Homo sapiens: one gene and its partner. Changing the gene in region 2 together with the main gene of any one other region gives a genetic interaction. Each region holds a gene or a part of one and is shown on either strand. Other genes may lie near its edges.

What was found.
Region 1: of DMRT1 (region 2) and NANOS3, changing one enhances a phenotype caused by changing the other (phenotypic enhancement), as found in Homo sapiens cells (one study listed by BioGRID).

What each region holds. Positions count from the first base shown.
Region 1 is NC_000019.10:13,868,672-13,884,596, reverse strand, and holds NANOS3 (nanos homolog 3), read right to left. Parts: upstream 7,464-15,925; 5' UTR 7,349-7,463; coding exon 6,832-7,348; intron 4,156-6,831; coding exon 4,094-4,155; 3' UTR 3,840-4,093; downstream 1-3,839. UniProt on the Homo sapiens protein: Plays a role in the maintenance of the undifferentiated state of germ cells regulating the spermatogonia cell cycle and inducing a prolonged transit in G1 phase. Affects cell proliferation probably by repressing translation of specific mRNAs.
Region 2 is NC_000009.12:910,024-925,518, reverse strand, and holds part of DMRT1 (doublesex- and mab-3-related transcription factor 1), read right to left. Parts: intron 8,760-15,495; coding exon of another isoform or gene 8,757-8,759; coding exon 8,612-8,756; intron 1-8,611. UniProt on the Homo sapiens protein: Transcription factor that plays a key role in male sex determination and differentiation by controlling testis development and male germ cell proliferation.

The DNA of each region.
Region 1 (15,925 bases), on a different chromosome or scaffold from region 2:
GAGTGCAGTGGTGCAACCTCAGCTCACTGCAGCCTCGATCTCCCAGGCTCGCATGATTCTCCCACTTCAGCCCCCTAAGTAGCTGGGATTACAGGTACCCGCCACCACACCCGGCTAATTTTGTATATTTTTTTTTAGAGATGGGATTTTGCCGTGTTGCCCAGGCTGGTCTCAAACTCCTGGATTCAAGTAATCCACCTGCCTCAGCCTCACAAAGTGGTGGGATTACAGGCATGAGCCATCGTGCCTGGCGGGATATTTTTTAGATAGAGTCTTGCTCTGTTGCCCAGGCTGGTGTACAGGATCATAGCTTACTGTAGCCTCCATCTCCCAGGCTCAACTGATCCTCCCACTTCATCCTCCTGAGTAGCTGGGACTACAGGCGCGCACCACTATGCCTGGCTAATTTTGTATTATTTGTAGAGATGGGGGTCTCACTACATTGCCGAGGCTGGTCTTGAATTCCTGGGTTCAAGCCATCCTCCCACCTTGACCTCCCAAACCTTCCAAGGATATGAATGCCATCTGGGCTGGCCTTTCTAGCACTGCCCTGGGTGCTGGGGAGGCAGTGTGGGACAAAACACAGAGTTGAATGCTACTGGGGGATTCGGGGTGTGGGGACATGAGAGACAGCAGATTAGATAGTCAGATGGCAGAGTGTTGGGGAAAAAAAGGCAGCGGAGAAGGGGTTAAAATGTAAGGAGGAATCAGGGAAGCCACCACCAGGAGGAGACATTTGGGAAAGAACATTCCAGAATCCTGAGAGGTGCTCAAGGAATGGCCAGGAGTCTAGTGTGGCTAGAGCCGAGGGGAGGGGAGAAGCGGGGGATGAGGGGAGGGCACGGGGCAGGCAGGTGGTGCACAGCTGCGGGAGGAGAGGGCTTGCCTCTGAGCTAGGTTTCCAAGTTCACAGCCCCCAGTGCCTGTGGGGGACAAGCCACAGGGGCAGGAGATAGGGAGGCGGTGGCAGCAGCGTCCTGAGAGGGCAGGGCAGGTAGGGGAGAAGCGGTTGGGTTCTGGGCCTGCTGGGCAGTGGAGCCAGCTGGGTTGGCCATCAGGGTTCTGTCGTGAACAGAGGAGGACAGGCTGGACACCTGGAAAAGATGGCGCGAGGCCCTGCGGAAGCCCCTCCCACTGGAGAGCTCTGGTAGTCCAGTGAGGTCGGGCCACTCTCAATTTCCTTCCCTGCTGGCCAGGACCTTCGTGGGGATCCAGGCCTCTGAGGCCTCCAGGATGGAGGATGCCACCAACGTCGTGCGTGGCCTCATCGTTGAGCTCTCCAACCTGAAGTACGGGGTGGGCTTGGACTCACGGCACAGGGTCTGCGGGAGGCCAGTGGGGACTCAGAGGAGCAGGGAGGGACTGAAGTGTGAAGCCCCTAGGTGGGCAGCGAGGGTCAGGCACCTCACTGCTGCTGGGTCCTCACCGTGGCCCCCCTCCCCCGTCCTTTGCAGAACACAGGCTCTGAAGAAAGGCTGCAACAGGCCCAGCCTGTGCTACAACAGGCCCTTTCTGGTTATGTGCACGTGTGTGAGCCGTGTGTGTGCACCTGAGTCATTGGTGACCATGTGGCTGTGAGGCGCGGCCCCCTCTGTCACCTGGTGACCACTGAGCCCCACACGCATGCCTGTGTTTCCCCCACAGCCGGCTGATCATGGGCACCCACCGGGACCTGGAAGCTTTCAAGCGCCTTAACTACCGGAAGACAAAGCTGGGAGGCAAAGCCCCCCTGCCTTACCCTTCCAAGGGGCCTGGGAATATCCCTCGAGGGGACCCACCCTGGAGGGAGTTGTAGGCCACTTTGAGGTCTGTGTTTCCTTTGCCACCCAGCCCCCATGTCCGCAGACCTCCTCCAAGATGCTCCAGGGGGTCCTAGTGGACCCTACAAACCTCCCTTCAGTTGCCCGGAAGTTGGTCTTCCATGGACAACACAAAGGAGGCCGTGAGGTCCTGGCCTCACCTGGCCAGGGTCAAGGTCATTTGCCACCCTTGGCTTCAGGGAGGGAAACTGTGTCTCCCACAGCCCCAGTGACTTCAAGCGGGCCTGGGCTCCAGGAAGCTGGCCACCTCTGAGCAGGGCCCATCCTGTCCGGATTTGCAAATTTTAGGGTCCTGAGCCAAGTATGGATGGTTCAGAATTTGTTTCTTTCCTGGAGGAGAAGAGAGCTCCCTTTGTTTTCTTTCTCCCCATTTCCATTTTATTTCTTCTGGGAAGACCCATAATAAATGATTCTGTAGAGGCCCCGTGACCTGCTGTTTGGGGCTGAGGCTTCAGTTCCTTCACCTTCCGCCCACAAACCTCTCTACCCACTTCCTCCTCCTCGCCCTCTACGAGTTTTATGCCTCAGCTTCCCTGGGAAAGCAAGGGGGGGGCGAATCTCCAGGGGTGGGTGACTGTGTGCCCACATCTGTGTGCAGGCTCTTGAGCATACACGCGGGTCGAAGCCTAAGAGACGCCCTGGGCGATCATCCAGCTGCAGGGTGAGTCCTGCGCTCCGGTGGCTTGGCCCATCCTCCAGGACAAGCTGCCTGTGGGCCCCAGACAGGAAGGAGGCCATCCCAGGAGGTTATGGATGCAAACATGGCTGAAGTCGTGGCATTTCTCATCCCACGCAAGCCTCTCGAGCCAGATGACAGTCCTGTTAGCAACCACAGGGGCTGCTGTCATCCCCAGTTTACAGAAAACAATGCCTCTGTGAAATCTGTCACTGAAAGGCTGACTGGACCTTCGACATCATGAAGCACTCTGTGACTCCTGCACCCCAGCTCCCATGGCTCAGGCGGGGTCCTCCTCCCACCCTGCAGCCTTACACCCTGGAGACCTGATGCAGGAGGGGAGGAAAGAGCAGGGTGGGTTCACACCCAGGTGAGCCCCCTGTCCACCAGGACATGCCCTGGTGTAAGCCCAGTTCCCCGGGTCTCCAGCCCCAGCGGCTCTGCCCTAGGAAACTGTAACTCCATTCCCAGACCCTGGGAGCCGCTGGGATCCTTCTGTTTTCTTTCTCCTCCTCCCCACTTCCCCCTCCACGACCCAGCTGTCTGCAAGAGCCCACCCCCATCCCCAGGGCCTCCGGTTCCAATTTAAGTCTTTTAAGTCGGAAAGCCAAGGGCAGAGGGGACAGCAAAGAGCTCGATTCCTGCTCCCCGCTGCCAGACCACAGGCCTCAGGGCTGGTTTGTGGGACGGGGGCGGGGTAGGAATGTGGACTGCACAGTGGGCGCACTGGCTTCCTGAGCACTGCCACCTGTTGCCCCAACAGGACAAGATCTGGAGGTGGAGGAGGCAGGCAGGGGTGTGGGGATTCCCCCACATGCATTTCCCCCCCGCCCTGCCAGAACAGCCCCATCCTTCTGCTCCTGCCCAAGCCCACCCAGGACATGGTCCCATTCCCTGCCCCCTAAATGTCCCTCCCTTGCTCTAAACTGCCTGGCTTGTCACTGGGGCATCCATGGTGACATAAACATTCACCTTCCTTAGTGATGAGGATGTCGGGGGGGGGGGCTCTGTCTAGTTGTGTGTCAATTTCTTCCTCAAATGAAGCCCCCACCTCCAGTACGGAGCTGGGGGTGGGATGGGAGGAGTCCACCCATCTTGCATGTCAGTGCAGGGGGTGGCTGAAAGACCAAATGTCCACAGAAAGGGTCTCATGATGTCGATCTGGCTTTGAGGTGCCATGAACCCCCCCAGCTACCCCAAGGCACCCACTTGTGTTTCTCTGCACAAAGCAGCTCACCCCAGCACCCCAGGGTGCCGAAACTCAAAGAAGGAGAAGGGGAGATCTAGGTACAGGACTCCCAGCAAGGTTCACACTACACCTTGTCCCAAGACCAGGGCTTGTCTGTTGTTGATCCATTCATAAGCATTTATTGAGGGCTGACTGGATGCCCAGCACTAGGGAAACGGCAGATGGCACAAAGGGTGGGGTCCCCAAGGACAGGGCGATTTCAGCTCTTCCCTTGCCAACCCCGGGTCATCCCCAGGGCTCAATCCCAGGCTGGGGGGAGGGTCTGGGAGTGGGGGCAGTCGTCATAGGGTGGGTCTTCCTGGAAATCCAGCCGAGCCCGGGTGCCCTTGCCCAGGTGTAGGCAGCCTCCTAGGTGGACATGGAGGGAGAGCAGGAGGGCGAAGGCTCAGACTTCCCGGCACCTCTGAAACCTAGTGGAGGGGGAGGGAGAGAAATGCTTAATCACAGGCGATGACTCAACGCTCCCCAAGTTGCCCACGGACTCGGCCTCCGGGCCTGCTGGACCTCTGGCGCCACCCAGGGGCTGCTCCGGAGACAGCGACCCCGTGACGTCTCTGGCTCCGCCGGGCGGCCCCGCTGGGACCCAGAGCCCGAGACAAAGCACAGGAGTTCCGATTCTGCGACTGTGGTGCCCTCTCGTGGCCGCCGTGCTCTGGGGTCCCCGGATCTGTTACTCCCAAAAGTTGTTCATCAGAAAGGCTGGCCGCAGGACACCATCTTCCCTATGTCCTTTTGGCCTCCAGCGTCTCCCAGTGAGACAGCATCAAACCTCACAGGAAACACTATCTTCTCCTGGAGGCAGTCTTTCATGCTTTCTTTTTTTTGTGAGACGGAGTCTCACTCTGTCGCCCAGGCTGGAGTGCAGTGACGTGACCTCAGCTCACTGCGACCTCCACCTCCCGGGTTCTAGCGATTCTCCTGTCTCAGCCCCCCGAGTAGCAGGGATTACAGGCGCATGCCACCATGCCCAGTTAATTTTTTGTATTTTCAGTAGAGACGGGGTTTCACCATGTTGGCCAGGCTGGTCTTGAATTCCTGACCTCAGGTGATCCACCTGCCTCAGCTTCCCCAAGTACTGGGATTACAGGCATGAGCCACCATGACCAGTGCTTTTTTTTTTTTTTAAGACGAGGTCTTGCTGTGTTGCCCAGGCTGCAGTGCAGTGGCACCATCTCAGCTCACTGCAGCCTCTGTCCCCTGGACCCAAGCGATCCTCCCTCGTCAGCCTCCCAAGTAGCTGGGACTACAGGCACACACTACCATGCCCAGCTAATTTTTTGTAGACACTGGGTTTCACCATGTTGCCCTGGCTGGTCTCAAACTCTTGGGCTCAAGCGATCCTCCTGCCTTGGCCTCCCAAAGTATTGGGATTACAGGTGTAAGCCATCACACCTGACCCTTTCATGACTTTAAGAAATGTTCACTGCAAAGCTGCCTGAGAGTAGTTGGGAGGGGTCGTCCTCTCCCAGTCACTATCCTCCAGGAGCTCACAGTCTGCTGGGGGAGGCAGTGCCCAAACACACCTAGTTAGACTGGCCCCTCCTCTGTTAGCTGACTTCCTCAAAGGCAATTTAAGTTGCTAGAACGAGTTTCTCTTTTAAAACCTCACTGGGGGCCAGGCATGGTGGCTCAAGCCTGTAATATCAGCACTTCGGGAGGCTAAGGCGGGTGGATCTCGAGGTCAGGAGTTCAAGACTCAGCCTGGCCAAGATGGTGAAATCCCGTCTGTACTAAAAATACAAAAATTAGCCGTGCGTGGTGGTGGGTGCCTGTAATCCCAGCTACTCGGGAGGCTGAGGTAAGAGAATCGCTTGAACCCGGGAGACAGGTTGCAGTGAGCCAAGATCGCGCCACTGCACTCTAGCCTGGGTGACAGAGCAAGACTCCATCTCAGAAAAATAATCAAATAAAAGAAAGAAAGAAAGAAAACCTCACTGGGGCCAGGCGTGGTGGCTCACGCCTATAATCCTAGCATTTTGGGATGCCTAGGCAGGAGGATCACCTAAGCCGTGTTTGAGACCGGCCTGGGAAACATAGTAAGACCCTGTTTCTATGGGAGGAAAAAAAAAACACACCAGGAATGGTGGTGCACGCCTGTAATTCCAGCTACTCGGGAGGCTGAGGCAGGAGAATCGCTTGAACCCAGGAGGCAGAGGTTGCAGTGAGCCAAGATCGCACCACTGAACTCCATCCAGCCTGGGTGGATAGAGCGAGACTCTATCTCAAAAAAAAAAATTAAAAAAAAAAAGGAAGAAAAATAAATTGATAAATAAATAAAATAAAAGTCTTCTTTCTGCATCTATAATAACCCTGCGGGCCAGATGTGGTGGCTGATGCCTGTAATCCCAGCACTTTGGGAGGCTGAGGAGGGTGGATCACGAGGTTGGGAGTTCGAGACCAGCCTGGCCAACATGGTGAAACCCCATCTCTACTAAAAATACAAAAATTAGCTGGCCATGGTGGCAGGCGCCTGTAATCTCAGCTTCTCAGGAGGCTGAGGCAGAAGAATCGCTTGAACCCGGAAGGCAGAGGTTGCAGTGAGCCAAGATCATGCCACTGCACTCCAGCCTGGGTGACAGAAAGAGACTCTGTCTCAAGATAAATAAATAAATACATAAACAAACTGGCTCGGTGCGGTGCTCACGCCTGTAATCTCAGCAGTTTGGGAGGCCGAGGTGGGCGGATCACGAGATCAGGAGTTTTGAGACCAGCCTGGCCAACATGGTGAAACCCCATCTCTACTAAAAATACAAAATTTAGCCGGGCATGGTGGCAATTAGCCGGGTGTGGTGGCGCGCGCCTATAATCCCAGCTACCCAGGAAGCTGGGGCAGGAGAATCGCTTGAATCCAGGAGGTGGAGGTTGCAGTGAGCCGAGATGGCGCCACTGCACTCCAGCCTGAGCAACAGAAAGAGACCTGTCTCAAGATAAATAAATAAATACGTAAATAAAATCAACTGCTGTTCTAAGCTCTCTCTAAGGTCTTCCCCTAACCCTTGGAGGTGGGTACTGGGGCTAATCTTACTTCACAGGGGGGCTCAGCCACTACCCTCGGACAGGTCCCCCCCAGCCACCTGTGCAGGCACCTGCTCCTCCTCCTCCTCCTCGGCGGTGGCCTGTGTCCTGTGTCTTCGCCTTGTCAGGCCGGACCAGCTTCTTGCCTGCCGAGTTTCGGGTGGTGTGGCTGTAGACGGAGGTGTAGCCCTGGCCAGTAAGTGGGCAGAAGCGTCGGGTGTGGGCGCGCTCACGTGTGGCGCCGCACTGGGGACACACGTAGTCCCGCAGGATGGGACACAGCACCCTGCCAGCCTCGTCCTTCAGCACGTGGGACTGGTAGATGGCCCGGGACTCGCCGTTGTGTTTGCAGAAAGAGCACAGGCGTTCGGGAGCTGGCGAGGACTCCAGGCTGCGCTTCTGATCCTTGGGTCCCGGCACTGGCACCGACTCCGGCGCTGGCATCGGCTCCAGGGCTGACACCGGCTCCAGCATTGGCTCTGGCTCTGGCTGGGGGCTCAGCCTGGTTTCAGGACCCTCTTTCCCACTCAGAGCCCTAACCAGGTGTGCCAAACCCAGGTAATCTGTCCACAGGTCAAAGGTCCCCATAGCTGGGCAGCATGTGCCAGGCGGAAGGAGTCACAGAGACAAGTAACCCTGCCTGGCTTAAGCTCCCTCCTTCTGACCCCTCTCTGCTGCCCCTTCCTTCCCCTCTCTGGAGCCTGGGAGTCTGTGCTGGCCGACCCTCCTTTTACCTCCAAGGGGGTGTGAAGAGGGAGGAGCAGGCTGTGGGAGGTTCCTTATTGTCACAGGGGGGCCTGGTGCCCCACTAATACTCCTCCTAAAGGGCTGTATGGCCTCTGGCTGTGCCGGGGGACTACAGGACACAGGGTGTGTGGGGGGGCATCCTGCGAGGTGCACCACAGCCCCCCGTACACACCTCCAGGGAATTGGGGGGCTACCCTGCCTCCCCTCCTTGTAGGAGTCCTTAGCCCTCCAGCCCCACTGGAGGATGGGGAGAATGGGTTGGAAACCCCACCCCCAAAGACTAGCAGTTACCAGTAACTTAAAGAAGTTAACTTAGTAACTTCTTTATAACTTTTTCTTCCTTCCCCTGGGCGGGGGAGTGGCCAGGTGCCCCTGGGTTCTTTGTGTGTGTGTGTGTCCAGGCGGGAGGTTGCTGATGCTCCAGCTGTCTCTGAAAGGAGTGTGGTAGTCCCAGGCTCATGGGCTGGTTGCGGGGGTAGGGGGGAAGGATCATGCCCCCCGGCCCCCAGCTCTGGTCTCCCTCCAAGAGTTTTCACATCGGTTGTCTTAGTGGAACCCCCATTGAATGGATGAGCAAACTGAGGTGTGAAGCCACCTGCCCATCCAGTTATTTATAAAGACATGCACCAGGCCAGGGAGTGGTGGCTCATGCCTGTCATCCCAACAGTTTGGGAGGCCAAGACAGGCGGATCACCTGAGGTCAAGAGTTCGAGACCAGCCTGGCTAACATGGTGAAACCCTGTCTCTACTAAAAATACACACACACACACACACACACACAAAATTAGCTGGGCATGGTGGCGGGTGCCTGTGATCCCAGCTACTCAGGAGGCTGAGGCAGAAGAATTGCTTGAACCCAGGAGGCAGAGGTTGCGGTGAGCCAAGATCAAGCCACTGCACTCCAGCCTGGGAAACAGAGTAAGACTCTGTCTCAAAACAACAACAACAAAAAGCACCACATCTGCCTCCTTCTTCTAGTTACTGGGGCCCCCTGAGGCTAGGTGCTGGGGAGGGAGCCCTTTCCTGGCGGGGGCTGCAGAGGGGTGAGAAAGAACCCTCTGGAGTTGGGAGGTGGGGGATAGCAAGTTGGGCTGTTAGGAGGGGACCCCTAGTACCTACAGGTCTTCAGTGTCCTCCCCGAGATGAGATCTCAGCTCAGTCCCAGGAGGGGAGGGTGTGCTCAGGACTTGGACACAGAGGAGAGACGCTGTGCCGCTTACACAGCTCATCCACCCATCCATTCATTTAAGAAACTTTTATTGGCCAGGCACTGTGGCTCATTTTGAGAGGCCGAGGAGGATTGCTTGAACCTAGGAGTTGGAGACCAGCCTGGGCAACGTTTTGAGACCCTGTTCCTACAAAAACACTTTTTCGAAATAAGCTAGGTGTGGTGGTGCGTGCCCGTGGTTCCGGCTACTGGGGAGGCTGAGGCGGGAGGATCAACGCTTGACTCCAGTTATTAGAGGCTGCAGTGAGCTAAGGTCACACCATTGCACTCCAGCCTGGGTGACAAGAGCGAGATCCTGTCTCTAATTTAAAAAACAAAACTATGGAGCACTCCACGGAGCAGAACTTACCACCCACATTTCAGAAAGGGGTTTTAGGCCAGGCAAAGTGGCTCATGCCTGTAATCCCAGCACTTTGGGAGGCCGAGGGGGGAGGATTACTTGAGGTCAGGAGTTTGAGACCAGCCTGGCCAACACAGTGAAATCTCGTCTCTACTAAAAATACAAAAATTAGCCCACTGTGGTGGCAGATGCCTGTAATCCCAGCTACTTGGGAGGCTGAGGCCAGAGAATCACTCAAACCCTGGAGGCAGAGGTTGCAGTGAGCTGAGATTGGGCCACTGCACTCCAGCCTAGGCAACAGAGTGAGACTCTGTCTTAAAAAAAAAAAAAAAAGGGGATTTTAGCTGCCCTGCCCCAGCCTGTTTACCCCCAACCCTCTAATATTTAGTCCCAAATCCAGCCAGAGCCCATCCAGATTCCAGACACCAGCTCTCCTCTCCAAAGAGGAGTGGTTGGGGTCAGGGCAAAAAACAGGCTGAGTGACTGTGGCGGTGGGGGGTCCTGTCCCCAGTCCCCATTCCCCTTAAGCCGTGTCTGGCCCAGCCACAGTGACATTCATCCCCCGGTGGGTCTGGCCTCAGTCCTCACAACCCACCGACAACAATGAATGTTGATTGTGACCTCGGCTGTGGCCTAGGGGAGGGGACGTGCCCAGGCTGGATTGGGGGCTCCCCAGGCCCCCCTAGATCTGGAAGGTCAGAGTCACCGGCAGGAGGATGGCAATTCCAGGCCTCAGGGTCCACTCAACGGTCGATGGTTTGCCTGAGCTGCCCAAACTCACCGACAGGTTGAATGTTCCCCCAAACCCTTGGCAAATTTTCCGGGACCTGGAGTCGGGGGTGGGGTAGGTGGCAGGGAACCAGAGAGCATGAAGAGGGAGAGGAGGAGAGAGTAAGGAACCCCTTTTCTCTCATGAAATAAACAAACGCTTTTCAGGTGCTGTTTGCACCTAGATCTGGGAAAAACACAAGGCAAATATAAATGCTAGTAAATAAAATGTAGCCTTTGCTATGGGGATGGAGATGTAGCAGTGCAGGGGAGTGCTGGCCTCAAGCCCGCTCCTTAAGTAATTCACAAAGTGATCCTGGAGGTGCAGATTACCCCCCTTTGTCAACTGGGGAGACTGAGGCCAAAGGCCACTGCTAGTCCGAGGTGGAGGAGGCATTCCAAGTGTTCCCGGGAAGTCTGGCAACGGAGGATCCTGGCCCCGAGGGCATTGATGCAACGTGGAGATAAACAAGCCATTTTAATACAATGTAATACGTTCTGGGAGCTTCACTGAGTTCCGGGCACGATGGTTTAGGAATCACAACAGCGTGAGTGGAGCGCTTGGGGGTGGGGGGTCGTCAGGTCTCTCCACTTTACAAGTGCACTGGGGCCCCACTAGACAGGGGAGAGGCAGGAGGTTCAGAGAGGGCGCCGCTCGCCCCGCGTGCGCGGTCACACAGCATCTGAACTCGGGCACTTCCGGAGGGAGTCCGCGCAGCCACGTGGGGGCTGCCCCTTGGGCCTCAAAACCGGCTGCGGCGCCCCCTCTCCATTTCCTCATCCCTCAAATGACCCCCAGTCCCTTCCTCCAGTGATCGCACAGAGTTCGGCGACCACCCCCCCGCCCCGGGTGCCCCCAGGCCTACAGGTACGCACCCCTATCTCCCACCCCCCGCAAGCCAAGCAGTGACGACCAGGGATGGGCGAGCGCGCCTTCGCCCCTGACCTGGGTCTGCGGACGGCCTAGGAAGGTGCACCCGGCATGGCCGGGTGCTGCGGCTCAGGCCTGTAATTCAGTATTTTGGGAGGCTGAGGCGGGAGGATCTTTTGAGCCCAGGAGATGGAGACCAACCTGAGCAACATAGCGAGATACCTGTCCCTACAAAAAAATTAGCTGGGTGTGGTGTAGTGAGCCTGTAGTCTTAGCTACTTAGGAGGCTGAGATGGGAGGATCGCTTGGACCCCAAGAGTTCGAGGCTCGAGGCTGCAGTGAGCCGTGATCGCGCCACTGTATTCCAGCCTGGGTCACAGGACGAGACCCCGTCGTCGCAAAAAAATAAGTAATTTCCTGGCCCCTGGCATTTCACCGAGGGGAATACTGAGGCCCAAAATAACCGCCTGGCATAACCCCAAGGTAGATGAGGGACCCCCAAGTGTGCCGAGCTGCGTGAACCACCCCCCCACCACACCCCTCACGGTGGTGGCAACGGAACCCGGCCGAGCCCCCGAGGACGCGCCCCCGAGAGCCCCGCCCCCGAGAGCCCCACCCACAGTCTGGAGCCACCAGCCAAGGCCCCAGCCCAGGCCCTGCCCCTTAGAGCCCCGTCGCTTTTGACCTGTTCCCCAGAACACACTCCCTCTAAAACCCGCCCATATAGACTCCCACGGAGCCCACCGCCAAACCCCTAAGCCAGTCCTCAAAGAGCCCAGCTCCCTTAGGGCCCGCCCCCTTAGAGCCCTCCACAAAAGCCTGCTCTATAGACGCCCCGGGACTGCGTCCTGCCCCCACGAAGCCCAACCCCCCACTAAGGTCCGCCCCGACCGGGCACGCCCCCAAACCGAATTTCGTAGGGCCCCTCAAGCCCGATCCCGGCTAACTCGCCCTCCCGAAGCCCCCCTCCCGCCTCCCGGCACCTTCTAGAGCCCTTTCCCCAGAGCCCGCCCTCTCACCCGCCCCGGGTCGGGGTCACGTTCCCACCCCTCTGTCTGGAGCTGGAGTGGGGCGCCCTCTCTCGCAGCTCATCCGCCACGTCCAGCAGATCCTCCCATTCAGGCTGTGGAGTGGGGGGGCCTGATCGGCTTCTCTTTATCCGCCACCTCCACCCCAGGTGTCCAGGCCCTTCCGAGGGAGGTGGCCGGTCCCCTGCCTTGTGGATCATCATTCTAAGGAGGAGAACGCCTAGGACTTGGGAAGGAGAGTGAGTTGGGAGCACAGGTGTTAATAATTACATTACTGATGATAACGCTACATTCATCACGCTGTGAGCAGGATATACCCATTTTGTGGACTGGGAAGGTAAGTGGCTCTGTTAGTCCAGAACTCTCAAGATTCCTCAAAAGCTTGGTTCTTGTCTGTAGTCCCAGCTAGTTGGGAGGCAGGAGGATGGCTGGAGCCCAGAAGTTGAGACTAGCCTGGAAAACACAGTGAGACCCCCATCTCTCTCTCTCTCTCTTTTTTTTTTTTTTTTTGAGATGGAGTCTTGCTCTGTCACCCAGGCTGGAGTGCAGTGGCGCGATCTCTGCCCACTGCAATTTCCACCTCCTGGGTTCAAGCAGTTCTCCTGCCTCAGCCTCCTGAGTAGCTGGGACTACAGGCACCTGCCACTATGGCCAGCTAATTTTTGTATTTTGAGTAGAGACAGGGTTTCACTATGTTGGCCAGGTTGGTCTCCAACTCCTGGGCCTCCCAAAGTGCTGGGATTACAGGCATGAACCACGGCACCCAGCAGTGGTTCTTTAAAACCCCGTTTCTTTAAAAAAGAAAAATCTTTATTCTCTTTTTTGTTGCTGTTGTTGTTTTGTTTTGTTTTGTTTTGAGACGGGGTCTCGCTCTGTTGCCCAGGCTGGAGTGCAGTGGCGCAATCACAGCTCACTGCAGCCTCGACCTCCCAGCCCCAACCAATCCTCCCACCTTAGCTTCCCAAGTAGCTGGGATCACAGGTGCCTGGCCTGGCTAACTTAAAACAAAAACAAACAAATAAAAAAAAGTTTTGTAGAGATGAGATCTCACTATGTTGCCCAGGCTGGTCGCGAACTCCTGGGCCTCCCAAAGTTCTGGGATTACAGGCATGAGCCACCTCGTCCCACAGGAATCTTTCTTCTTGATGACTGTGAACAGCTTTAATGTTGGGGGCGGGGGGTCATCAGGCAGGAGACATTCTGGCTATGTTGGAGGGGGTTCCCCAGACACCTCCTGTGTGTCCTTTCTGCCTCCCACTCCTCCCTCTGAGGGCTTTGGCCTTGAACTGCCAAGGAGGTTGTTCCCTGTAAGGTTTCTCCCTAAGACAAGACACAAGACCACAGTGGAAGAGGGGTCTGGTCTTGAAGGCCAGGAAGCTGGGGCTGGGGCGACAGGAGGCCGGCAGCCCCAATCCTGGGTCTGACTATCTCTCTTCTTTGCCTGTGGTCCGTGCAGGCTTCTGGCCCTCAGTGTCCATCTGGGTCCACCTGTCTCTTGGTCATCCCAGGGTCGTCTGTCTGGGTCGGACTATGCCCCTCACACATCTGTTCTCCATCTGGGTCTCCTGCCCAGCCCGTGCACCTGCCTCAAACTGTCTGGATCTGCCTGTATGTGTCTAGCTGTTTACCCCCCATCTCCATCTCCTGTCTGTGACTGGTGACCGTGATACCTGTCCCCTCCTGTCCCCTGAGGGAGTCTGCAGCCCTGCCCTGCTTGTCTGGTTGCAGCTGTCTGCTGGTTTGACTTTGAAGTCCCTCAGAGTGGGAGGTGACAAGCTGTCTCCTCCTGCTTGTGACCCTGAGCCTCAGTGCATGGGGGGTAGGGGTGTCTTTCAGGGCCTTCATTTTGCTTCTTCTTTATCCTTAGTTCCTGGGACCCCTCACCTGACCCCAGTGCAGCTGGGAGGGTCTTTCTGGGCAGGGGAGCTGGGGATAAGTGGGGTGTGGGGGACGGCCCTCTAAAAGCCACGTTATGAGCCGGGCACGGTGGCTCATTCCTGTAATCCCAGCACTTTGGGAGGCCGAGGCGGGCAGATCAGTTGAGGTCAGGAGTTCGAGACCAGCCTAACCAACATGGTGAAACCCCATCTCTACTAAAAATACAAACAAACAAAAAAAAAGTAGCCAGGCATGGTGGCGCACACCTGTAGTCCCAGCTACTTGGGAGGCTGAGGCACGAGAATTGCTTGAACCTGGGAGGCAGAGATTGCAGTGAGCCGAGATTGAGCCACTGCACTCCAGCCTGAGTGACAGAGTGAGACTCCGTCTCAAAAAAAAAAAAAAAAAAAAAAAAAGCCACGCTATCCCAGGGCCTTGCCCCCACCCCCCCACACATAGCACCAGGAAGGTGCAGGGCAGCTGGCACAAGTCGGGGGATCAGAGTCGGAGGTGAGAAGTCCTAGCAGAGGCAGGTGAGCAAGTGATGGATGGATGGATGGATGGAGGCAGCTCTACCGTCAAGCTGAAGAACAAGGCTGGGCGCCGGGTGGCTCATGCCCGTCATCCCACTGCTTTGGGAGGCCAAAGCAGGAAGACTGACTGAGCACAGGAGTTCAAGACCAGCCTGAGCAACATGGTGAAACCCTGGCTCAACTAAAAATAGAAAAACTTAGCCGGGTGTGGTGGTGTGCGCCTGTAGTCCCAGCTATTTGGGAGGCTGAGGTGGGAGGATCACGCAAGCCAGGGAAGTCGAGGCTGACGGAAGCCAGGGAAGTCGAGGCTGCAGTGAGTGAGACGCAGTCACGCCACTGCACTCCAGCCCAGGCTACAGGAGTGAGACCCTGTCTCAAAAAAAAAAAAATAGTTGAAGAACAAGGTGGGCATGGCTAGAAGGCCAGGTCTCCAAGCTCCCAGGGGTGTCTGGCGGCCCGTGTGTCCTGCCCGTGATTCTTGAAGTCTTGACTGTGAAGTCCCTCAGGGTGGGAGGTGGCAAGCTGTCTCCTCTCGATCTCAACCCTGAGCCTTGGTGCATGGGGGTTGGGGGTGTCTCTGTATGTTCACGCATGAGTACCTATATATATGCTCCTGTGTGTCTGTGTGTTGTATGTAACTGTATGTGTGTGCGTGTGTGTGTGTGTGTGCGTGCGTGTGTGTGTGTGTGTACTTGGGCCTGGAAGGGGGACACGGGGTGGGGGAGGTCGTCAGGACCTGGCAGACAAAGAGCCCATTATGGGGGTTCCAGCGACACCAAGAGCCCTGTGGGGGTCTCCGTGGGGTCACGGTGATGGCCCAGGCTGTCTAGACTGGCAAGCAGGGGTGTCTCGTTTCAGTGATACCTGCGTGGGCTCTGAGGTTCCCACCCCACCCTCCGCAGGCCACCTCCCCCACTTCCTTTCCAGCTGCGGGAGTCTTTCATGCCAGGGGTCCTCAGACAAGGGGCTCCTCTGTCCCACCCAGCCCGTGGGCGGTGGGTGGGCTAGGAGCCCAGCTTCCTTCCCAGGCCTGCCAGATGTGAGGCCAGGGCTGGGGAAGGCGAGAAGGTTCTGGCTTCTCCAGGAATGGGATTGGGGGCTATGGAGGGGCCAAGCTGAAGGAGAATTCAGGCCGGGCACGGTGGCTCATGCCCGTAGTCCCAACGCTTTGGGAGGCCGAGGCAGGAGGATCACTTGAGCCCAGGAGTTCAAGATCAGCCTGGGCAACGCAGTGAGACCTCATCTCTACAAAAAACAAATTAAAAAAATTTTTTAATAAGGGAAATTCAGACACTTCTACTGAGGCTTATGGTGCTGGGTGACCCTGGGTTTGGGGTCAGGGTGGGCTCCGTCTCAAGAACTCTTGTAGGATGTTTCTATGGGTCTATAAATAGGGGCTTCAGGTCCAAGCTACTTTGCTGAGGTATTTTGGGGGGTTCTGTGGGTGTCTGTAAGTCCAGGTGGGAGTGTGCTATAGCAGGTGGCTGTCTCTCCACCAGCTGTGTGTGTGCGTGTGTGTGTAAGTTCCTGTGGGCTTCTGTTTGTGTGTGGATGTCAGCATTGCTGTGGGTGTATATCAGGCTAATTGTGTGTAATTCCAGGTCGACATGTGAGCCAGTGTGCGTGGGTGTCTGGTGTCTGCTGGTGTCACTATGAGTGACTGGAGTCTGTATCATCCAGTCATGGTGTCCCCCCCATCCCATTCCCCACTAAAATGTCAGGTGTGGGAAGACAGGGATTTCATTCTTTTTTTTTTTTTTAAAAGAGACTAG
Region 2 (15,495 bases):
GCACACCCATCCTCTCTGTTAAGTGTGAATATTGAATAAGCACCCCTGACCCTCCGGCAGGGCTGCGTTCTTAATCAAAATACCAGTCACACATAGATAATTAAGTCCCTAAAATTCAAGTTTTGCAAAGGGAAGATTCTACATGGCATAAATCCAAGATGTCTGTGGCCTGGGGACAGTACCCCATGTTTGTTGGTGTCTGATTTATTTCACTGAATGCTTCACTGGAATACCTAACTCCAAGTAGATGAGGAACGAACAGAAAAGATTCCACAGTTGGTTTCTTACTCATTTAAGAAATGACAAACCATCCCGGGAGCCATCTGAGAACACTGCACGATGCCAGGCACCTGGAGGAGTACGAAGCTGACCCTCCGTGTGGGCACACACCCTGGTAATTCTTGCTAACATGCTGCAGTGAATGGACCTTATCCTTACATGAGTAAGTGTGACCTCCCTGAGGTAGGCCCCTGGGAAGTCTTGCTATTTCCAGACTACAGCCTGGAGGAGGCCTTGTCAAATGGCAGTGCTTTACACAGAGGACACGTTAGGAGCCCGACAGCTCTCAATCTTGCCCACAGTTTGCCTTGTGGGGTGCTCTTTGTATGTAGAAAGAGAAAGAAGTTTGAAGGAAAGACAGAAATCTGCTTGTCCTCATCCAACAGCATGTCAGCTTGCTTCTGTACCATTCTTTAGGCATAAAGGGACCTGCTGGTGTTCTTCACATTCCCTGAAAAGCACTGGTGTGTTTTACTTGGCAAACATATCATAAGTGTAATATATTAAAAAATACATCTTTAAAGCTGCCATTTCCAAATGTTTATTATCTGCTTAAAATTAGTATGCTCCATCTTCCTCACTCGGCAGACCATGATGTCTAGCTAATTTCAAGAATCATGATACACATACGCTTAGCCCTCCTTAATGACAGTAATCATTTTCATTTGTACAGCCCACTGCCAGGCACCTGCCAAAACAGAAAGATACATAAGCCACGGTAAAAGGTCTACATACAAGTATATGAGAGATGACAGATTCTGCCATACTTTTACATAATTCCTTATGTGATCCATATATAAAAATAGATACATGTGTTATTATTGTTTTCCACTTTCCAGATGTAACTGAAGCTCTAAGGGATTGATCAGGCCAGGCACAGTGGCTCACATCTGTAATCCCAGCACTGTGGGAGGCCAAGGCGGGCAGATCACTTGAGGTCAGGAGTTCGAGACCAGCCTGGCTGACATGTAGAAACCCCATCTCTACTAAAAATACAAAAGTTAGCTGGGTGTGGTGGTGCACCCCTGTAATCCCAGCTTCTCAGGAGGCTGAGGTAGGAGAATTGCTTGAACCTGGGAGGCAGAGGTTGCAGTCAGCCGAGATCATGCCACTGCACTCCAGCCTGGGAGACAGAGAGAGACTCCAGGTGGAAAAAAAAAAAAAAAAAAGAGATTGATCATCTTACTACTGGCTCCAGAGCTGGGGACCTGAGCAAGACCTCGTCTCCTGGGATAGTTCCAATGCCCTTCCATTCACTGGCCTTGTTGCCACTGAAAGCCCCACTTACTTCTCTGTTCCAAGTTAAAGCTGAGAACAAAATGGACACATAACGAAAACAGATTTACCTACAAAGTTCTCTTTTCTTTGAAATTTAGCAAATAATAAGTCGTTTCTAAAATGTCAAGTTTAAATTAAACTCAGCATTTTCTAAATGTTGCATAAAACACATTCAGCTTTCCTTAAAGCAGAGAAAGACAAGGGTTGATGTTTTTCTATCCTACTGGCTGAGAAATACAGCTCAGGGCAGGATGCATACATAACAAACGCAGCCCTCTGAGTCTTTGCCCCACTCTCCTTCGTGCCAGCCAAGCTCTACAACATTTCAAAGGCATCGTTCTCCCCTACAAGAAGAGCTATGTGAAATGCCCACACAGCCCTCGCAGGAAAAAATGGGGGAAAGTCATGATAACACCTGCCATCCTTTACCTGCATTTTGTGATTATTGAGCTTGTTTGCACATCAGACACCATTTCATCCTCACTGGTGTGGCCTCCACAGAGCCAACATCCTCACCCTCTCTCAGCAGGTAAGGAAATCGAGGCTCTCAGGGAAGCATTTGGTACTGCCACATAACCTGCTAAGTCATGGGTCCCATTCAGATTCCACGTACAGAATTCTCTACCACCCCACATGGCCGCTTGTCACAGAATGTCACCTCACCTCACATAAAGGGCACCTTTGGCGTTCTGGATCAAGAGCAAGTAGATCTCAGGGTGCTCCCAACAGAGAGCAGAACCTCAGTTTTCTCACCTGCAAACTTGGGAGGTGCAGCCAGATGACCTTTTCCTAAAAGTCCAAGTCTGACATGCAGCATTAAGCAAGTCCACTCCCTGAGGTGCAAGCTACCCATTTTGCATGCAGTCCTGGTCATCCTGAAGGAGAGGCCTATGGTATCAGTGAAATCAGGCACTGCTAGACTCCCTGGTCCACGACATTGCCAACGCCAGATGGATTCGAAAAGTTGTATTTGGGAGCACAGAGGCCTCTGCAAGCTGCTTACACATCACAGAGGAGCATGAAGCCTTCAACTCCATGGAGCCCATCACTGACGGTGGCCATCTGACCTTTGGGTAAAATGTAGATGCTCTGCAACTCGCTTCACGGAACTGCTGACAACCTCTGTGTGTTAAATGAGTAATACATGAACACTTCATGATCTGTAAGCACCACCTTAAATGTTTCTTTCTCCTGAAAAGAGTGCAGCTTGGACGTGAAGGAAGGCTGAAGTTGCACGGCAGGCTGCCACTCTGAGACGGAACCAAAAGAAATAAGGCACCATTTCTAACTTTTAAACCGAGATCACAAAATAAACAGACAAAAATATCTAAGTGTATTACCTTCACCAACTGAAACCTAAACCTTTTTGCAGGTGTCGACCAACCACGTACTCCAGCAACTTATACTCAAGAATTCAACATGCAGAGAACGATGTCTATTCTCAAATGTGCAGTGCCACCCACCTCTAGACAGAGGTGCATCTGTTAAAACACAGGGGCTGCTGTGGAGATCTGTCTCTTCATCACCAGCTGGGGAAGCATCATTTCAAAGCTGTTCCCACTACCACTTCCCGAACAGCTTGCATCTGTTACTACGAAGTGGCCACATTCTTATATAAGCCAACCCTCCATCTGGGCACTAGACAAGTGATCTTCAAACAGTCTGTGGAGCAGGAGAGGCCTGCTTTAAACTTTTTTTTTTCCAGTTTCCAACCCACCGTGGTCTGGTACTTTGGCAAAATACAATAAAAATGAATTACTAGAGCCCCCCAGACTTTTTTCTTGGCCAGGTAAGATGGCTCACACCTATAATCCCAGCACTTTGGGAGGCCGAGGTGGGAGGATCGCTTGAGCCCAGGAGTTCAAGACAGCCTGAGCAATATGGCAAAACTCTGTTTCTACAGAAAAAAAAAAATTAGCTGGGCGTTGTGGTGCTCACCTGTAGTCCTAGCTACCCGGGAGGCTGAGGTGGGAGGATTACCTGAGCCTGGAAAGTTGATGCTACAGTGAGCTATGATTGCACCCCTGCATGCCTGCCTGTGCTACAGAGCTGGAGGGCTGTGTCGTGATGCAGTGCTGGATGCAGTGTGTGTCTCAGGGTTTCGCTCTGTCACCCAGGCTGGAGTGCAATGGTGTGATCATAGCTCACTGCAGCCTGGGCTCTAGTGGTCTTCCTGCCTCACCCTCCCAAGTAGTCAGAACTACAGGTGGGTGGCACCAAACCCAGCTAATTTTTTATTTTTTATTTTTTTGTAGAGATGGGGTCTCACTATGTTGCTCAGGCTGGAAACTGTTTTTTTAAATGGAAAACAAGTGTTGGCAAGGATGTGGAGAAACTGGAACCCTCATATACTATGGTAAGAATATAAAACGATGCAGCTGCTGTGAAAAACAGTAACATGTTCCTCAAAAATTACATATAGACTTACCATAGGACCCAGCAATTCCACTTCTAGGCATACACCCAGAAGAAGTGAAATCAGACATTCAAACAAAGACTTGTACACAAATGTTCAAAGCAGCACTATTCACATTACCCAAAAGGTGGAAACAACCCAATATCCCTCAACTGATGAACGGCTAAACAAAATGTGGTATATCCATCCATACTATGGAATGATATTGAGCCACAAAAACGAATGAAATACTGATCTATACGACAGTGTAGCTGAATCATGAAAACATTTAAGCTAAGCGAAGCAAGACACAAAAGGCTACATATTATGAGATTCCATTCCAGAACTGGCAAATCTATAGAGACAGAAAGCAGATTAGTGATTACCAGGGGGCTGGAGGAGGGAGGATGGGGGGTTTCCTTTTGGGGTGATGAAAGTGCCTTGCAATCAGATAGAGGTGACGGTTGCCCAACTCTGTGAATGTACCAAATGCCACTGAATTGTACACTTTAATTATGGTTAATAGTTAATGTTAGGTGGATTCTACCTCAATAAAAAATAGGCTACTAGAAAAATGAAAGACAAAAAATACAAGCCCCAATATTTTATCAACCTCAACAGACAAAACTGCTCTACCAAATTGCTATAAAGTTTGTTTCCTCTCTATTTCTTATCTCCCCTCTTAGACAAGTAACAAAGCACTCCCAGACCCACATCAGACCATGGCCCCCACTCTGCAGACCCTTGGTTCCCACCCCACCTGGCTTGCTCAGGGTCACCCCTACAGCAATTGTGCCCTCCACACACTCCCTGTATCCACAAATTCTCCCTCTATTGGGATCGCCCTCATCAGCATACAAGCGTATTATAAAATCTCTCTTCTTTAAAGAAGGAGCCAAGGCCCTTCCTTGAACTCACTTCCCCACGGGTTGACGTCCCATCCCACTATTCCTCTTACAGCAAAACTCCTGAAGAGCTGCCTGTATTCACTGCACCAATTCTTCTCTCCCATGCACTCCTGAATACGCAGGCAGGCTTTGGTTCTCACCTCCCACCAAAGTGACCACTCAGAAGGTCACTGATCATTTCCACCTTGCAACAGCTGATGGTCGATTCCAGTCCTCATCTCATTTGACATATCAGCACTCTTTGGCTCTCATTAAAATCCTTTAATTTGGCTTCTAAGGCACCGCTCACACACAGTTTCCCTCCTGCCTCACAGGCTGCTCCTCCTCCCTCTTTTCCTTGCTAGTCCTCCTCATCTACAGGGCCATAAACACTGGAGACACGCAGGCTCAGTCCCTGGTCCTTTATATTCTCCACCTACATTCATCTCTCCAAATGATCTCATCACATTGACTTCAAATAAACCTATGCACTGAACCCCCAAATCTTCATCTCCAGTAGAGATATTTCCCCTCCCCCTCAGACTCCACACATCCAACTCCTAATCAACAATCCACTTGGGTGGTTCATGGACATCTCAAACTTAACACATGCAAAGTTAAACTCGTAATGCACACAAACTTATTTTTCCCATAGTCTTCTTTACCTCAATAATTGGAAACCCCAATCTACTTTGGAATTATCTTCGAGGAGTGTACAAATACGTAGAAAATCAAAATACCAATTGGTCAGGTCAAAAATTAAGGAGTCATCCTTCACTCCTCTCTTCCTGTCCCATCCAAAGACCAACAGCAAATCTTGTTGGTTCTATCTTTAAAATATATCCAGAATTCGACCACCCGTCATCACTGCCACGCTCCCACCCTCACTCAGCCACCATCTTCTTTTGCCAGAATTACTGCCATCACCTTCTAACTGGTCTCCCAGCTTCCACCCTTGCATCCCTATAGTCTATAAGAAAACAGTCATCAGGGTGATCATTTAAAAGCACAAGACAGACAAATCACCCTGTGCTTGAACCCTGCTATGGCTCCCCATCTCACTTGAAATAAAAGCCTAATTGTTTCCAATAGCTTACAAAGACCTGCAAGATCTGACTCCACCATCTCTCTGACCTACCCTCTTAACGTTTTTCAGGATAAGGAAAGAAGGAATGGCTCCTATCCTTTTACAAAGAAAAGCATTAAAAAGCAGTAACACGACAAAAGGAAAACTTGCCCTGTAAAATGCCCCCCTCCCCCCGCCCAACATTCCATTTATTTCATGTTGCCAGCTTTATAGCAAACCCAGAGGAAGACACTGAACTTGGGTTCATTTTTTTAGATGACAGAGAAGCTAAGCTTAAATTTATTTTTAAAGAAACTGAAGAACATAGATTTAATGGGCAAATTTATACTTAAATAAGACTTTAAAGAAGACATTAAACCTACTGAAAACACTGTCTTTCAAGTTCTTTAGAAATCCCTATTTAGAATAAATAATAACTTACATATTAACACAATCAACCAAAGGAACTTAGACTTGACGGATCTGCCACATGTAACTGGTTATGAGCCAACCTTTGCCGATATCTCACAAATGAATATACTGATGTCCGCATCCCCACCCATCATTTCCTGTCTCTAGCCTCAGCCCCACCTCCCAGAAGGGCTAACATGCTCTCAAAGAACACCCCACTGTGTCAATGCTGATAAAACTGAGGATCCAGTGTCCCATGAGATGACCTTTGAGGTGTCCTTACTGACCTCCAAACACGCTTCCTTTACCTTCCCACTTGCTTTGTAAAAATTCATGCAATATAAAAAAAGCCAAAATAGCACACATTTGGAAGGCATTAAGCCTTCTGTTAAAAATTAGCTGGGATTTTGATTTTCTACGTATTTGTACACTCCTTCTCGAAGATAATTCCAAAGTAGATAGTGCTGAGATTTTACTTCCCAGCTCTCGTTTCTGAAGCTTGGGCCTCCTACTTAACTGTTAGTGGGTTAGCAGGGTACCAGGAAGTTAAGCCTGGGGCCTCCTCACACACTACTCTTTCAAATAAACACATGGCCAGAAAAGTAATAAGGAATTGTAGGTGGTATTCACCTATTCTTCTTTCCCTGTGAGCGCTAGTACAGCTGGTCTTTTTCTTTCCTGGACTGTAACCTCTTTCCTTCTGAGTCGCTTCCTTTTCTGCCATAAATTCAAATGCCTACCGCTCCTCTCCAAATTCGCTCCTCTCTGCTCTAATAAATTGCCTCTTATATTTTTGTCTTACTGCCTTGCTCTGAATTTACACCTTTGTCTCAAGAACGCCAGTGCTTCAAAAAATATTCCATTATTCCTGGTGTAAGAAGCTCAGGCAATTTCTTCCTGAAAGTGGGTTTCATTCTTAATTTTCTGTATTAACAAATGTTCCTTTAACTGCTTCATCCCCAAATTGTGCAGACAGGCCAGTTAGGATTCTGACCTTTCATGCTTGCACGCCCTTACAGGCCAAACTCAGTTAAAAATAATACCAGATTCATTCATTCATTCACTCAACCAACAAATAAATAAAAGGCATCACAGCAGGTAAGAAAGTATAGAAAATGTGTTGTTTGTCCTTAGGGAGCTTATAAGCCAAATAAATATATAGACTCAAAAGCAGTATGAAAGAAGGACCTATGGGCACACATTATATAGTATGAATACTTATAAAACAGAGTTGTGCTTGTCCACTCCCAACGGAAAGTGATTCTTAATAAAAGTGAAACTGCAATCAACAATGTGTACTTCGGCCTCTCTGCAGCTCAAACTACATAGGCTCCCGTGACCTATATATTTCATATTAATAGAAGTCCTTTATTTTATGTTAATATGGTAAATAAAGCATAACTTGCCCAGCTATTTTAGACTTTCTGGTTCTGAATTTGGAAATCAAAGCATGGTTCTGATTCTCATTCTCTAAGTTCTCTAAAGAGTCAAGTTACTTAGAAAATGAACATATCCTTTTATTTAGCACAGAGTAAATTCTTCTAGATTGGTTTCTCTTCCAAGACACCCTCTACTGCCCTGATTTCCACTTACTGCCTATTGTGTATGTTTCTCACTTTCCTACATCAAAAGAGGATGCTTAACTATAAAGAACTTAAACACGGGATCTGGAAACGCAGCAGCTGTAAAGACCTGCCTCTCACCACAGTGAAAATGCTGGGGGATGTTAAAATTGAAGTCGAGTTACTATGTATTTCAAAGTGCTTTGATTCATTAAACAGTCATTTTTTATTTCAAAGCCATTATATCAGAGTTATTTGCATTGCTACTGCATAAACTCTGAGATCTATTGTATTCAAAAATGTTTTATTATGTTGTTTTCGCCAAAAAGATGAATACGCCTTCAATTTTAAAATGAAAGTCTTTGGGAAAGGAGTTTTCAATGCACAGAAACTCACTTCACAAAAAATACCAGGTCTTGAACCACATTTAAAGTGCCCCTGTATTTCATATTGATCCTCCATAAAATACATTTTTAGCTTCCAAGGGAGAGTCTCTCATCTTACTCCTGTCACTCTAGGAATCCAGAAAGGAAAAAAAACATGATATTAAGAATCAAGCATAGCAAAGTCATTTTATAACTAAATTCTTTAAAGGATACTTATCCAAGCTTCACACAGCAATAAAATTTCCAACAATTACTAACAGCTAAGCCATTAGACACAGCTAATGACCCAATACTGGATAGCCATCCTCTCTCAACCCCAAATCCAGTCTGTGTGACCAGACACCTACCGCTCGCCCTGGCTTCCGGGTAAGAGGGAGCATCCTCAAAAGTGAAGAACTGGGGCACGCTCTGGCCCAGGTAAGAGGGAGGCGGGTAGTAAGAATGCATCCTGTACTGGGAGCTCATTGCATGGCGGTTCTCCATGTTCTTCATCTGCTTAAGAAAAAAGAAGAAATATACTGAGATCAACATTGCATGTCACAACTAGTACAATAATTATCTAGTTCTTTAAAACAAGGTAACAGGCTGGGCACAGTGGCTCATGCCTATGTTCCCGACACCTTGGGAGGCCAGGGCGGGAGGATCGCTTGAGCCCAGGAGTTCAAGACCAGCCAGGGCAACACAGTGAAACCTCTTTTCTACATAAAAATCAAAAAATTGTTTGGGTGTGATAGTGCACGAGTGAGATCTCAGCTACTCAGGAGGCTGAGGTAGGAAGATCACTTGAACCCAGGAGTTTGAGGCTGTAGTGAGCCGTGGCTGCTTGCACTACTGCACTCCAGCCTGGGCAACAGAGAAAGACCCTGTCTCAAAAAAAAAAAGCAAATTAAGGGAATAGCCTATCTAAGTTGGAAGTGGCCTCAGCCATGAATATGCTCTTCCAATGTACTGGGCCTAGAACTATGATGGTGCCCTTTCTATCTTAAGGTCCCCTCTAAAGCACCCCTGAAATTCCTTCTGTTCATTTGGTGCTCGATTAACCAGTACAAAAGAGAACAGGGTGGTGGAGAGGGGACAACACAATCTGCTGTAACACTAACAAATTTGTTTGAACGGGCGCAAGTTATCAGACCTCTTCCCATGTTTCTTCATGTGCAAAACTGGAATTTTATCTTGGTTACCTTACAGTGTTCATATAAGGAGAGTATTTAAAATGACTATAGGCTGGACGCAGTGGCTCACGTCTGTAATCCCAGCACTTTGGGAGGCCAAGATGGGCAGATCACAAGGTCAGGAAATCGAGATCATCCTGGCTAACACAATGAAACCCCATCTCTCCTAAAAATACAAGAAAATTAGCCAGACGTGGTGGCGGGCACCTGTGGTCCCAGCTACTTGGGAGGCTGAGGCAGGAGAATGGCGTGAACCCGGGAGGCAGAGCTTGTACTGAGCCGAGATCGCGCCACTGCACTCCAGCCTGGGCGACAGAGCGAGACTCTGTCTAAAAAATATATATATATTAAAAAAAACAAATAAATAAATACTGTAAAACAACATGCAAACCATGTGTAATGGGAAGCTGTGGACATTAGCACAATGCCATGCTGGATCCTGTTAGTCGGTGTCTGTTCCCTGCAGCAAGAACAGGAGTCTGAGATCTGAATTCTGGAGGTGATTTGGCTTCTGCTAACTGGACACATGGGGCAGAGCAAAACTCGGAAGGCAGTAAGGAGGCACAAGCGCCCCTCCAGTGGCAGCTGCATGTGAGCACAGCAGTCATTCATTTTTTTCCGGCAACCAGACCCTGCCTTTAGGACCATGAGATAGCTTTTATATAAGAAGCAGTTCATTCCCTGTGGCTTCCTGATTCTCATTCAAAGCTAAGAAGATATGACTTGATGGCTTAGAAAGGGCCCCCCCTCCATTTCCACTTTCCTGGCCCTGATGACTCTGATTGTGTAAGACCCACTTCCATGAACATCTAGACCCTGTTAGAGACACCGAGCATTCAACTCATGATCACATCTTCACGGCAACAACAGAGCTGGACTTCAGTTATTTATGACAGTCTTTTAAAACTTAAATTTAGATGGTACTCGCTTTTAAACAAAATTCGATCTAAGGGAATGTTCAAGATAAACCAATTCTGTCCAGAAATATGAGTAATTTCAAAATAATCCAAAATAATTCAAAATCATGTTTTTCAATCAAGTATTTTAAATGGTACTTGAAAAAGAAAATAGCACTAACTTGACAGAGCCTGGTAGTGTAAAATTAGGCACTGGGCTTCCTCAAGATTTTCTATGAACATCTACATTCTGGACAATTCACCAACTAACACTGGCTTAAGTGTACTTTGGGTATTATGGTGCTGTTTGGTAGAAAGAGCTAAGTCCCTGATTTCTGCCTGATGCTTTGAGCAGCTCAAGGAATTTATTTTTGATCTCTACTGCTCTCAAGCTCAAATCTATGTTCTCATGAGTGGATTACTTCTTCTGGAGAAGCAAAGATACCATTACAGGTGATTATTTCCTCTCAAGTGAAGTTTACCTGGGTAAGTCCCCTTTATCCTTTCTAGTTTGTTTTTCTGAAGTATATGAAATGGTGTCTCTTCTAGGCCAATCACTCCGTTTTCACTTTCTACCATTACATTAAATCTTTTTTTTTTTTTTTTTTTTTTTGAGACAGAGTCCCACTCTGTCGCCCAGGCTGGACTGCAGTGGCATGATATTGGCTCATTGCAAGCTCCGCCTCCCAGGTTCACGTCATTCTCCTGCCTCAGCCTCCCGAGTAGCTGGGACTACAGGCGCCCGCCACCATGCCTGGCTAATTTTTTGCATTTTTAGAAGAGACAGGGTTTTACCGTGTTAGCCAGGATGGTCTCGATCTCATGACCTCGTGATCTGCCCGCCTCGGCCTCCCAAAGTGCTGGGATTACAGGCGTGAGCCACCGCGCCTGGCCACATTAAATCTTTACTAAATAGAAGGTTAAAGAAGCTATACTCGGAAAACAGCCAAAAAGGAAAAACTGGCTACCCCTAATAAATAAGACCACACAGCAGAAGAGCCCATTAAGAAGCCACTAAACCATTTAAGAGAAAAGGGACAATCATGGTAGCTGTTTACTACACACACCCAGTTATCAATTAGAGCACTGCAGCATCTTTTGATGATTCCCAGCAGCTCTCAATGCGCATATGAATGGCCAGGGGGTCCTGTTAAAATGCAGGTCCTGATGGTAAGACTGGGCTGGAGATGCTGATATTGCTGGTGCCCAGGGACTAGAATACGTGATCCTTCCTCTCATACTTAGTACCTCTCAGAACCCAAGACCAAAGGAAACCCTTTAAAAAAAATTGTTTGAGACCGAGTCTCACTCTGTTGCCCAGGCTGGAGTGCAATGGCACAATCTCGGCTCACTGCAACCTCTGCTTCCTGGCTTCAAGCGATTCTCCTGCGTCAGCCTCCTGAGTAGCCTACTCTACAGACATGCCCCACCACGTCCGGCTAATTTTTGTATTTTTAGTAGAGACGTTTTCTCCATGTTGCCTAGGCTGGTCTCAAATTCCTGGCCTCAAGTGATCCGCCCGCCTCGGCATCCCAAAGTGCTGAGATTACAAGTGTCAGCCACTGCCCCAGCTTAAAAAAAAAAAAAAATTACCAGTTGCTTACAACCATCCAGTTTCCAGCTGAACTGGAAAAGTGAAACTATGTAAATAGCAATTTTTAATTTTCATTCTTTTTTTATTTTTATACACAAAATTCCCCAGAACTAAAAGATTTTTTTCAGGGGTCTGTTGCCATCTACAACTGCTGCAGCAGTAAAAACTCAAACACACTTTGAATTGAAAAGCCATTTGTGTCTCCATAGACTTCCTTAAGTCAATTACACAGTCTGAGTAGTGAACACTGAATTAGAAGCAAGGTGCCGACATAAGCCGTAATATAAATAATGGAGCCTCCCTGCTCTGGGGGCTGAGTTTGTCACATCTACTTCAGGTTTGACAATATCTTCAAGCCAGTTCTTCAAGGAAAATGCTTTTCAATTTTGCCAGGGTACAAGAAAACAGATAGGATTTGGGCCTAAATGCTCTGCAAAATGCTGGATGTTTTTTTTACTATGAAAGTTTACACAAACCTTCCTTTCAAAATGTTTGAAAAATGTTGATCATGAGTCTATAGCAGGTGTCAGCAAACTTTTTATTGTAAATGTCAAACAGTATATATATTTTAGGCAAGCCATACAGTCTCTAGCAATTTGTAAAATGAATGGGCATGGCTGTGTTCCAATAAAACTTTATTTGTAAACAGTGGCACTGGTTCCTTCTCAAACTTCACTCTCACTGGAGTAAGGTGAGAAGGGAACTCAGTACTGATGCCTGGACTCCACTCAAGAAAATCTGGTTTAACTGCTCTGGGATGTGGCCTGGGCCCTGGATATTTTCAAAGATCCCAGTTAATTCTAATATGACACCGAGATTGAGAACCAGTGCTCTACAATTACCAACATATCGTCCATATACCTTGGAAGTACGAGATCCCAACAATCCCCTATATTAACTAAAACAGGCTAAATCTGACAAATAGACTGGCTAACGCTGCCAATCCCAATGTATGTATTATTTGACAAAAAGATGAAGATGAACAGTAAAATTCTTTTTTTTAACTAACGCTTACTGGAAAATAAACACAATTTCAAATCCATGCGTGTGCTTATTTATTCCCTTAATTCCTTTTCCATGTTTTCCAAAAGCATGAAATAAAAAGAACTATTAGGAAATAGGAATTTAGTTATTTATATTCAAACATTCACTATCCTTAATGAATCCCCAAGATCACTGAGCTATAAAAGAATTCCAGTAAAAGAAGAAAAAGATACAAAGGGTCAGACTCCATTTGAGGTTACTAGAATGTGAACTGATATGGTTTGGCTCTGTGTCCTCACTCAAATCTCATCTCACACCGTAATCTCCACGTGTCAAAGAAGGAACGTGGTAGGCGGTGGTGATTGGATCATGGGGGCGGTTGCCCCAATCTGTTCTCATGATATGGAGGGAGTTCTCTTGAGATCTGATGCTTTAAAAGTGTTTGGCAGTTTCCCCTGTTCTCTTTCTCCTCTCTCCTGCTGCCTTGTGAAGAAGAGAAGGTGCCTGCTTCTTCTTCGCCTTCTGACATGACTGCAAGTTTCCTGACGCCTCCCCAGCCATGCGGACCTGTGAGTTAATTAGACCTCTTTTTTTATTTATAAATTACCCAGTCTTGGGTAGTATCTTTACAGCAGTGTGAGAACAGACTAGTACATGAACTTACTGAGGTCATCAGTCACTTCAGCTACATCCACCTCAAAGAATCCACAAACAACCCATCCACGTGACAACTTGCTCATAAGAAGAAAAGGACAGTTCTATGTGTTTCTAAGTGCATGTGTAGCAATATAAACAGGATGTTAAAACTGCAATTCATGGATGGGCGCGGTGGCTCACGCCTGCAGTCCCAACATTTTGGAAGGCTGTGGTGAGTGGATCACCTGAGGTCAGGAGTTCAAGACCAGCCTGACCAACATGGTGAATCTCCGTCTCTACTAAATACAAACAATTAGCTGGGTGTGGTGGCAGGCGCCTATAATCCCAGCTACTTGGGAGGCTGAGGCAGGAGAATCGCTTGAACCCAGGAGGCAGAGGTTGCAGTGAGCTGAAATTGCACCACTGCACTCCAGCCTGGGCGACAGAGTGCGACTCCATCTAAAAAAAAAAAAAAAAAAAAAAAAAAAAAAAAAAAAAAAAATGCAATTAACCCAGAAAAAGGCATGGCAGAATGCAATTTCAAACTAAATTACTTCCTGCTCTCTTCTAACTTTAAAAAGAAAATCACAACCCTGCTACTTTTGGCTTAAACAAAATGGGAAATTAACGAAGCCTTTGAAACTCACTTTACTTTAAACCAGTAGTTCTGAACTAGGGGCAGTCTGATCCTCCACAGGGCATCTGGCAACATCTGGAGACGCTTTTGATTGTGACAAGGGGGCAGGGAGTTGATGCTGGCATCTAGTGGTCAAGGTCAGGGATGCTGCTGACTGTCACTACAGTGTAGTGTCCCACAATTCCCACAGGACACAGAATTAACCAACCCAAGGCCTGAACAGCGCCAAGGTGAGAAGCTCCCTTTAAACTAACTGAGCACCACCCCTGTGCTCAGTCCCTCACCTCCAGCTAGAAGAAAACAGCTAAGTGCTGCTGAGGGACAAGAGCGGCAAAGAAATCAGAGGAGCCACTCAGTTTTCCTAAAGGGATATATATTTTTCTCCTTTGTGAAATGCCTCCTTGTTTCCTCTCAAGGTTTTTTTTTATTCCTTCAAGCTAAGCAAATAAATAAACCAAGTAAACCCTAAAAACCCAGGATTCCAGTGAATGATGACTACTATTATTATTAGCAGTGGTCACTGGCAAGCAAGAGGCATGTTTTATACGTTATTACCCATCCAAAGTCTCTGAACCAGAGTACGACCCATGGATAAGAGCTGGCTGGTGGAGGATGCTCATGGTGTTAGTATTAACTTTGCAGGCAACCCAAGACCTTGGAGTTGTGTTCTATTAAATTGTTAAGAATATGCATTACAGTAAACCCGAGCCATAATTTCCTTTTATACGTGTTAGCCACCCTATTTTATAGTAACAATAATATCTGAAAAAAAAACCATAAAAATGTTTGAGTTCACTTCTTTTTTTAAAAAAAAAAATCCCAAATACCAGTCACTGGTTATCTAGTAACAGTTTAGATGAGTGCCTGGTCTTGCATCAAAGTGAACAGTCTATCCAGGTGAATGACTAAAAGGGATTTGTGAAGACCAAATTGTCATCTAGTTGTTTACTAAACATCGCATGGCTGCATAAAACTGGAGTTGATGTAACAAAGGGGAACAGTCTTTTTTTTTTTTTAATTTCTAAGTTTTTTCATTTGTTTTTGAACTTATATCAGATGATGCCTTTTTCATTAAAAATGCCTGTGCTCACATTTATTAAAAGTTTTCATCATCAGTATTTAGGTATCTTGATTCTTCATGCTTCAAGACAAAAAAATCTTCAGCGTTAAGTTCGTATCTCTCTAGAGCTTCATTCAGCTTCACTGGAGGCTCTAAGTAATGCTCATTTGCAGAAAGGGGAACAGTCTTAATGAGAAGAGTTATTCTATAGGATAACATTCCTAATTGCAAACTGATATTTAAACAAATAGT